Homo sapiens: one gene and its partner. The protein of the gene in region 1 purifies or fractionates together with the protein of each later gene. This does not show direct contact. Each region holds a gene or a part of one and is shown on either strand. Other genes may lie near its edges.

Region 1 (3,500 bases):
TATGCAACCACATGGATGAACCTTGAGGACATTATGCTAAGTGAAGTAAGCCAGTCACAGACATAAACTGCATATTTCTATTTATATGAGGAATCTAAAATAGTCACTTCCACTCATATGAGCTATCTCAAATAGATTGAAAGAGTGGAATACGGGTTGCTAGGGGCTGGGAGGGAGGAGGAAATGGGCAGTTACTAATCAGTGGGCATAAAGTTTCAATTGCGCAAGATGAATAAACTGGAGGTCTGTACAACATTGTACCTAGAGTCAACAATAGTGTACACTTAAAAATGTGTTAAGTGGGTAGATCTCATGTTCTTATTACAATAAATGTTAAAAGGTTTCATTGAACATGTGACATTAGAGTTGGACCTTTAAGGGGTGGGTGGTAGGATGAGTATAACCAGAGATGAAATGATTAAGCATCCAACTAGGAGGGTGTTAATAAAGGCAAGTCAGGCTGGGTGCGGTGGCTCACGCCTGTAATCCCAGCACTTTGGGAGGCTGATCGGGCAGATCACTTGAGGTCGGGAGTTTGAGACCAGCCTGACCAACATGGGGAAACCCCATCTCTACTAAAAATTCAAAATTAGCCAGGCGTGGTGGTACATGCCTGTAATCCCAGCAGCTCGGGAGGTTGAGACAGGAGAATCTCTTGAATCTGGGAGGCAGAGGTTGTGAGCCAAGATCACTGTATTGCACTCCAGCCTGGGCAACAAGAGTGAAACTCCATCTCAAAATAAATAAATAAAGGCAAGTCAGCTATTAGAAAGTGCAGGGTTTGTTTGAGAAATAGTATATAGTGTGTGTGTGATGTCGTTTAAAATTTGGAAAGGTAAATAGGAAAATAATGTGAAGGGCCTTGAAATAAAGTCAGAGAGGTACTAAATTTTGTTTGCTAAGTTGTGAAAAGCTATTGAAGATTTTGGAGCTGAGTTGGCACAGCTGTAATCTCCCTGGCAAGAAATGTAGCATGTCTGACATGTAATAGCCAATTCATATATTTGAGTGATAGAATCTTACTGTTCTCCAAGAGCCTCAGGAAATTTAAAGTAGTTTAAGATTTTCCAGCTAGGTAGTGCTGAAATTTGGCTGTAATATTATTGTATTGCTAATGAGAATTTTTCCAGAAAATAGTTTTCAAAAATAAATACTCAACAAGCTCCAAGCCCTGGGCTTTTCTTTCTTTACTAAACATTGTAAGATTTGAGTCAATATGATTACATGCTCTAATGTACATCTTCTTTACAGGTGTTAGTAAAATGGCCTTTCGCCATTTAATTGAGTTCACATATACAGCAAAATTAATGATACAAGGAGAAGAAGAAGCCAATGATGTATGGAAAGCAGCAGAGTTTCTACAAATGCTAGAAGCTATCAAAGCCCTTGAAGTCAGGTACTTAATTTCTTTAATGGGGTTCAGATAGTCATATTCAGTCATGTTCATTCTGTTAGTGAAGAACTTACAGTATGTGTCATGCCATGAAGAACAGAGTTCTTCAGAAGAATTAAGAATATTTAAGGATCTATTAAAAAATTTTCTGGATACTGATTGTTCTTTCACTTGACTTTGATTTTCTGATCATGTGTTAAAACTGCTAATATTAAAGTAGCATCTTTGGTATGTAATAAAATAAATCTAGACAGCTTTTTAAGGATCTGGATCCTTATAAACTGTTTTGTTGGATTCAAGTTATTGTTTATACCAAGCCTTATCCTACAAAGGGTTTGGCTTACAAAGATTAACATAATACTGTTTAAAAATAAGGAAATAGATGGAAATAAATAAATTGGTTTAATAAGGAGATAATCATTTCAAGTTAGAAGTATGATAGCCAAAAATGCATACCATAAGTCTATAGTAGATGTGCTAAATCTAGCTCTAAGTGCACCTAGTTCAAAGAAAAAGACTATTCAGTTACATTATTCCTTGTTAGAAGATGAGAACAAATCAATTGCTGAGGAGCCATTCCTATTCCTAGTATTAAAATTTCTCCTGAGAAGTATTAAGAAAACATTAGGCCAGGCCCAGTGGATTACGCCTGTAATCCCAGCACTTTGGAAGGCTGAGGTGGATGGATAGCTTATGCCCAGGAGTTCACAAACAGCCTGGGCAACATGGTGAAACCCTGTCTCTACAAAAAATACAAAAATTAGCTGGGCATGGTAGTGCATGCCTGTGGTCCCAGCTACTCAGGAGCTGAGGTGGGAGGGGAGGATCACCTGAGCCTGGCAAGGTTGTGGCTGCAGCGAGCTGTGATCACGCCACTGACTGCATACCAGCTAGGGGGAACAAAGTGAGACCCTGTTTTTTTAAAAAAGAGAAAACGTGAAAGGATATAATGAACAAAGACCTCAACATCCTTACTTGATGAATAATGGCAGTGTAACATAGTTACTAAGAATAAGAGCTCAGGAGTCAGTTTCCCTGGGTTAACATCCTGCTTCTACCACTGTGTGGCCTTAATTAAGTTACTTAACCCTCCTGTCAGCTGTGTCCTCCTCTGTCAAATGAGAGTAATAACGGTACTTTCTACATGGGATTTGATTGTGAGGGTTGAATGAATTAATGCATGCAAAGTGTTTAGCATGGTGTCTGGCTAAATGACTCTGAGTACTCTAAGTATGAACTATTATCTCCTGGTACTGTTTTTTATGTTTCTCAATACAGATCATTGGCCTGATGCCAAAACAGTTTGGTAAAATCAGTTTCACATAGCGGCACAATGATTTAATCTTAACTCACTGTTGTGGTTTAGTTAAAAGATAAAATTTATTTCTCTGAGGACTCTACTGGAATTTTATTTTATTTTATTTTTTTGAGATGGAGTCTTGCTCTGTCTCCCAGACTGGAGTGCAGTGGCACAATCTCGGCTCACTGCAACCTCCATCTCCTGGGTTCAAGCAATTCTCCCTGTCTCAGCCTCCTGAGTAGCTGGGATTACAGGTGCCTGCCACCATGCCCAGCAAATTTTCGTATTTTTAGTAGAGGTGGGGATTTCGCCATGTTGCCCAGGCTGGTCTCAAACTCCCAACCTTAAGTGATCCGCCTGTCTCAGCCTCCCAAAGTGCTGGGATTACAGGTGTGAGCCACTGTGACTGGCCGAATAAAAGTTTTTTTTTAAGAGATAAAAATTTAGATAACTCTAAGAATACTGAACTGTACTCGTCCATAAATATCATCTCTTAGTTTGACAGTTCAAGATTAAACCTTTCTGACAAGAGCTTGATACGTATATATATTCTTTGATGCTTAGCACCTGGCATATAGCAGGTGTACAGGAAACATTTGTGAATAGATAGATGGATACATGCTAATTAAAACCAGATCAGTACTCTTGCAGAGAGACCTGAGCATGGATGTCAAAATAGAGATGCATTCTGAGGATATAAACCTGATCAGGCCATCTCTTCTCAAAAAGATTAAAGGAAATATATATGGATGGGGCGATGTCAGATTGTGGTTAAATATTGAATGAGAGCCTTCCAAAAGAATGTTC
Region 2 (3,526 bases), on another chromosome or scaffold:
AGTGGCTGCTGTGATGTAAACTTAGGGTGCTGAGATAAGCAATTAGCTCTAGCCTTCTGCCTTAAGAATGCACTCTACTGGGGATTTCCTGGCATAGTTAAGAGCGCTGCCTATAAGGTTGGTGACCAAATCTTTCCTCGGTGACTTTAAGCTTTATGTGAAAGCTTAGTTAAGGTGAGGAGGGGCACACTCCTAAATTGCTGGATGACTGAACTTTGGATTTTCTCTCCCCTTTCACATGGATTTCATGTCTCTTTAGATAAAACTGACTAGTTTTATTTATAAAATCTTAAGTTTTGGAAGTCTAAAGGAGAAACCATTCCAGTATGCATATTTTTTTCTCCTCTAGATTCATACATTTATATAGCATTGAAACACTTTCAAACTCCTGCTGGTAGTAAAAGGGGATTTAAAAATAGAATCATAGCCATAAGCCTGTTAGTATCATATGAAGAGAGAACAGTTATCTTAGTACCTATGGATTTTCTTTATTTGCTGTTTGAATGGATTGACCTTGGTTATGTGTTGAGAATTAAGGAACATTCTTTGAAATGCCTCTCTCAGACCCATCTTGGAGGCTGATTACTTACTGCACCAAAGCTATCACTGGGGTGAGATTTACTGTTTGGACAAATTTAGCCCCATCCCTTCAAAAATACACTTGTAACCAGGTTTCCCAGAGTTGTTGATAGGCTTCTGCTGAACATATGCCAACCCACCTGCATAATATATTTTTGTTGCTTTTATAAATCATGCATTACATAAAGTGTGACAACTTCAAAATGTATTCTCTGTTCTTGGAATACAGTGCCCTAAAATGGTGTTCTTATGACCTGCAGAAAATATTTACACATATTTCCAAATATTTATTTCATGAGCAGTACAGCTAATTAAAATATATAAGCTTAAATTTTATATCTTACATTTAAAATATTAAGATTCCTTTGACTTGCCATCCATATAAGCTTGCTAAAAATATTAAGACCAAGTCATGCAATAATTGAATGTACCTCAAATTTTTAGGGGAGGGTGGGTTAGGGACTGATACTCAGATTGTGGATAATAATTGAATTGGTTTTTAAAGGCAACATAGCATTCTACAGCAGGGTTAATCTATTATCAAGAACAGTCACCCTGGTTAATAACAAGTTTTACTGATCAGTTGCTGGTTGGTTGGTTGGTTGGCATGTGGGTGTGTGGGTGTATAGGTGTGTGTGGGTGTGTGTGTGTATTTTTCCCCATGAGTCCTTTTTTTAATCCTGTGGCTTTTTCACTTACAACTAGCCTAACCCTGTAATTTTCCTACATCCAAGAAAACAATCACAAAGTAGTGGTTTAAATACTTTGTTGTATTTGGCTAATTTTGCTGTCTTAATGCAGCCTATTAAGAGTTGGGTTAAAAATCAGTAATCAGTACTTTATTACATCACTGAACTAAAATATGGAGACATCCTCATTGAAAATGGAGGGCACTCTATCAGTCTATAACTATCAACGTAGTGCAACAGGGTGTTTTGATACCTTTGTTTTCACCTCTTGACATAATGCTATTTAAAGGCTTGAATTTTTCCCTTTATATAATTTTCACCTTTACTTTCAAAGTGTTTTGTTGTAGTTGGCTATTGCAGAGAGTGCATTGTCCTATCATTCCTAAACCTGGTCTGCTTTCTACATTCATGGTATGGAAACCATGTGATTCTTTGTACAGTTTATCCTGATGTTGCTTGTAATGCAGTAGAGGCTATTTCGCCTTCGCTTTTCTTTCTCGACCTTTTTGTAAACCCTATAATTATGAAGCGATTGCTTGAGAAAATAACATATAAACATAGAATAGAATAGACTGACCAAGATGGTTCACAGTTTCTTTTTTTAACTAGGTTATTTATAATGTATTTCTGAACCACTTGGCAGACAAATTCACAACACTTAATGTTCATATTTTGAGTAAAGGAAGCTAAAACCATGTTTGCTTTCTGGTACTACATGCATTAGCGAAAGGTTAAGTAAGTTTTGTTCTCCACTGAAGTAATACTTAACATCTCAGAAAAAATTTTGCATGTTCTGTAGTTTTGTATTAAATCAGTCATTTCATATGCACTATATCAAGTACAAACAGGTAGTTTACCTGTTTATAGTAGTGTACTAACAAAGTCTCCCTTGCAGCTTCAGACTGTTATCTATAGGCTTATCGTTCAAATACAGCACTTGAATATCCCAAGTAGTTCTTCTACGCATAGCTCACCTTTCTAAACCCAGTTAAGCATGGAAGAGAGGTAGTAGGTAGGTGCAGTGTGTGGAAGCTGCAAACAAGTAGGCCTTTTATTCATTGATATCTTTTCCCAAGTACTGGATTTTAAATCTGTATGTATCTGTTTGATTTTTTTTTCTAATATTTCAGTTGAGCTGCTGTTTTCTTCCATGCAATATTGTATACTCAATTGTGTATAGAAGAAGCTGGTGAGAGTGCCCTCCTACATAAATAAGCAATTGCAGTGTTTTGCATGCAAAATATAAAAAATTTAAATTGTCCTGATTCTATTTTGTAAATGGAGAAACAATCATATCTTTCTAAGCGGTAATGGAGGAAGACTAGTGCTTTGTGCATTTTGATATATTTGAGTTCATTTTTTCCACAATGTCATACTTTTGACGCAGTTGGGTTTCTCATAAGTATCCTAGTTCATGTACATCCGAATGCTAAATAATACTGTGTTTTAAGTTTTGTGTTGCAAGAACAAATGGAATAAACTTGAATTGTGCTACAGCTAATGTGTCAGCAGCATTTTTCTCAGTTATTATCACCTTCCTTTTGTAGTCATCTCTACAACTATACCAGAAGCTTGATTGACTCAAACATTTAGTTAATCTTATCCCACTTCTAGAAAAAAATGAGTGGAGGGAAAATAAAACATAAAGATTTAATTGAAATAAACCTTACCAGTCTTTGAAAGGATTTGCTTTTGTGTCAGTCTCCTGACATTGTTTTACTGTAACTTCAGTAACGCTCCTGGTTGACGGGGAGCAGGGTGTAGCCAGCACATCCCAGATCGTCAGGATCTTCAGGGGGCTTGAAGAAAATGGAGTCGTGGTTAAACCTCTGATCCTTTCATTGCTCATCTAAGTTGCTCCACATTTCTTGGAGATCTGCATTTCCCAAACTCAACTACGAGCACTTTTTTAGAGTGTAATTTTCAGGATGAGTGATCACTTTGAACCTTAAAACTGAACAAAATTAAATACAAAATCAGTTTGATTGTGTTGTAATCTTGTTAGCACCAGAAGACTATTGCAGTTTACTTTTAGTGATAGAAAAAAAATATATATGTGCAGATACTAAGTTACAGCAAAAGCTGTATTTTAGAACTTTCACATTGTTGACTGAAGTATAAATGGGGACCATGTACGGCTTTAGGTGGAAGTGATTACAGAAATTTTTTTAAGTTCTCATTTTAAGAATTGGAATCTAGGACCGGCGCAGTGGCTCACGCCTGTAATCCCAGCACTTTGGGAGGCTGAGGCAAGGAAG

What was found.
Region 2: the proteins of ZNF131 (region 1) and MTPN purify together in Homo sapiens (affinity purification with mass spectrometry, with the first as the bait; one large-scale study listed by BioGRID). This does not show direct contact.

Annotation. Positions count from the first base shown.
Region 1 is NC_000005.10:43,137,914-43,141,413, forward strand, and holds part of ZNF131 (zinc finger protein 131), read left to right. Parts: intron 1-1,251; coding exon 1,252-1,396; intron 1,397-3,500. UniProt on the Homo sapiens protein: Plays a role during development and organogenesis as well as in the function of the adult central nervous system. May be involved in transcriptional regulation as a repressor of ESR1/ER-alpha signaling.
Region 2 is NC_000007.14:135,925,998-135,929,523, reverse strand, and holds the end of MTPN (myotrophin), read left to right. Parts: 3' UTR 1-2,764; downstream 2,765-3,526. UniProt on the Homo sapiens protein: Promotes dimerization of NF-kappa-B subunits and regulates NF-kappa-B transcription factor activity. Plays a role in the regulation of the growth of actin filaments.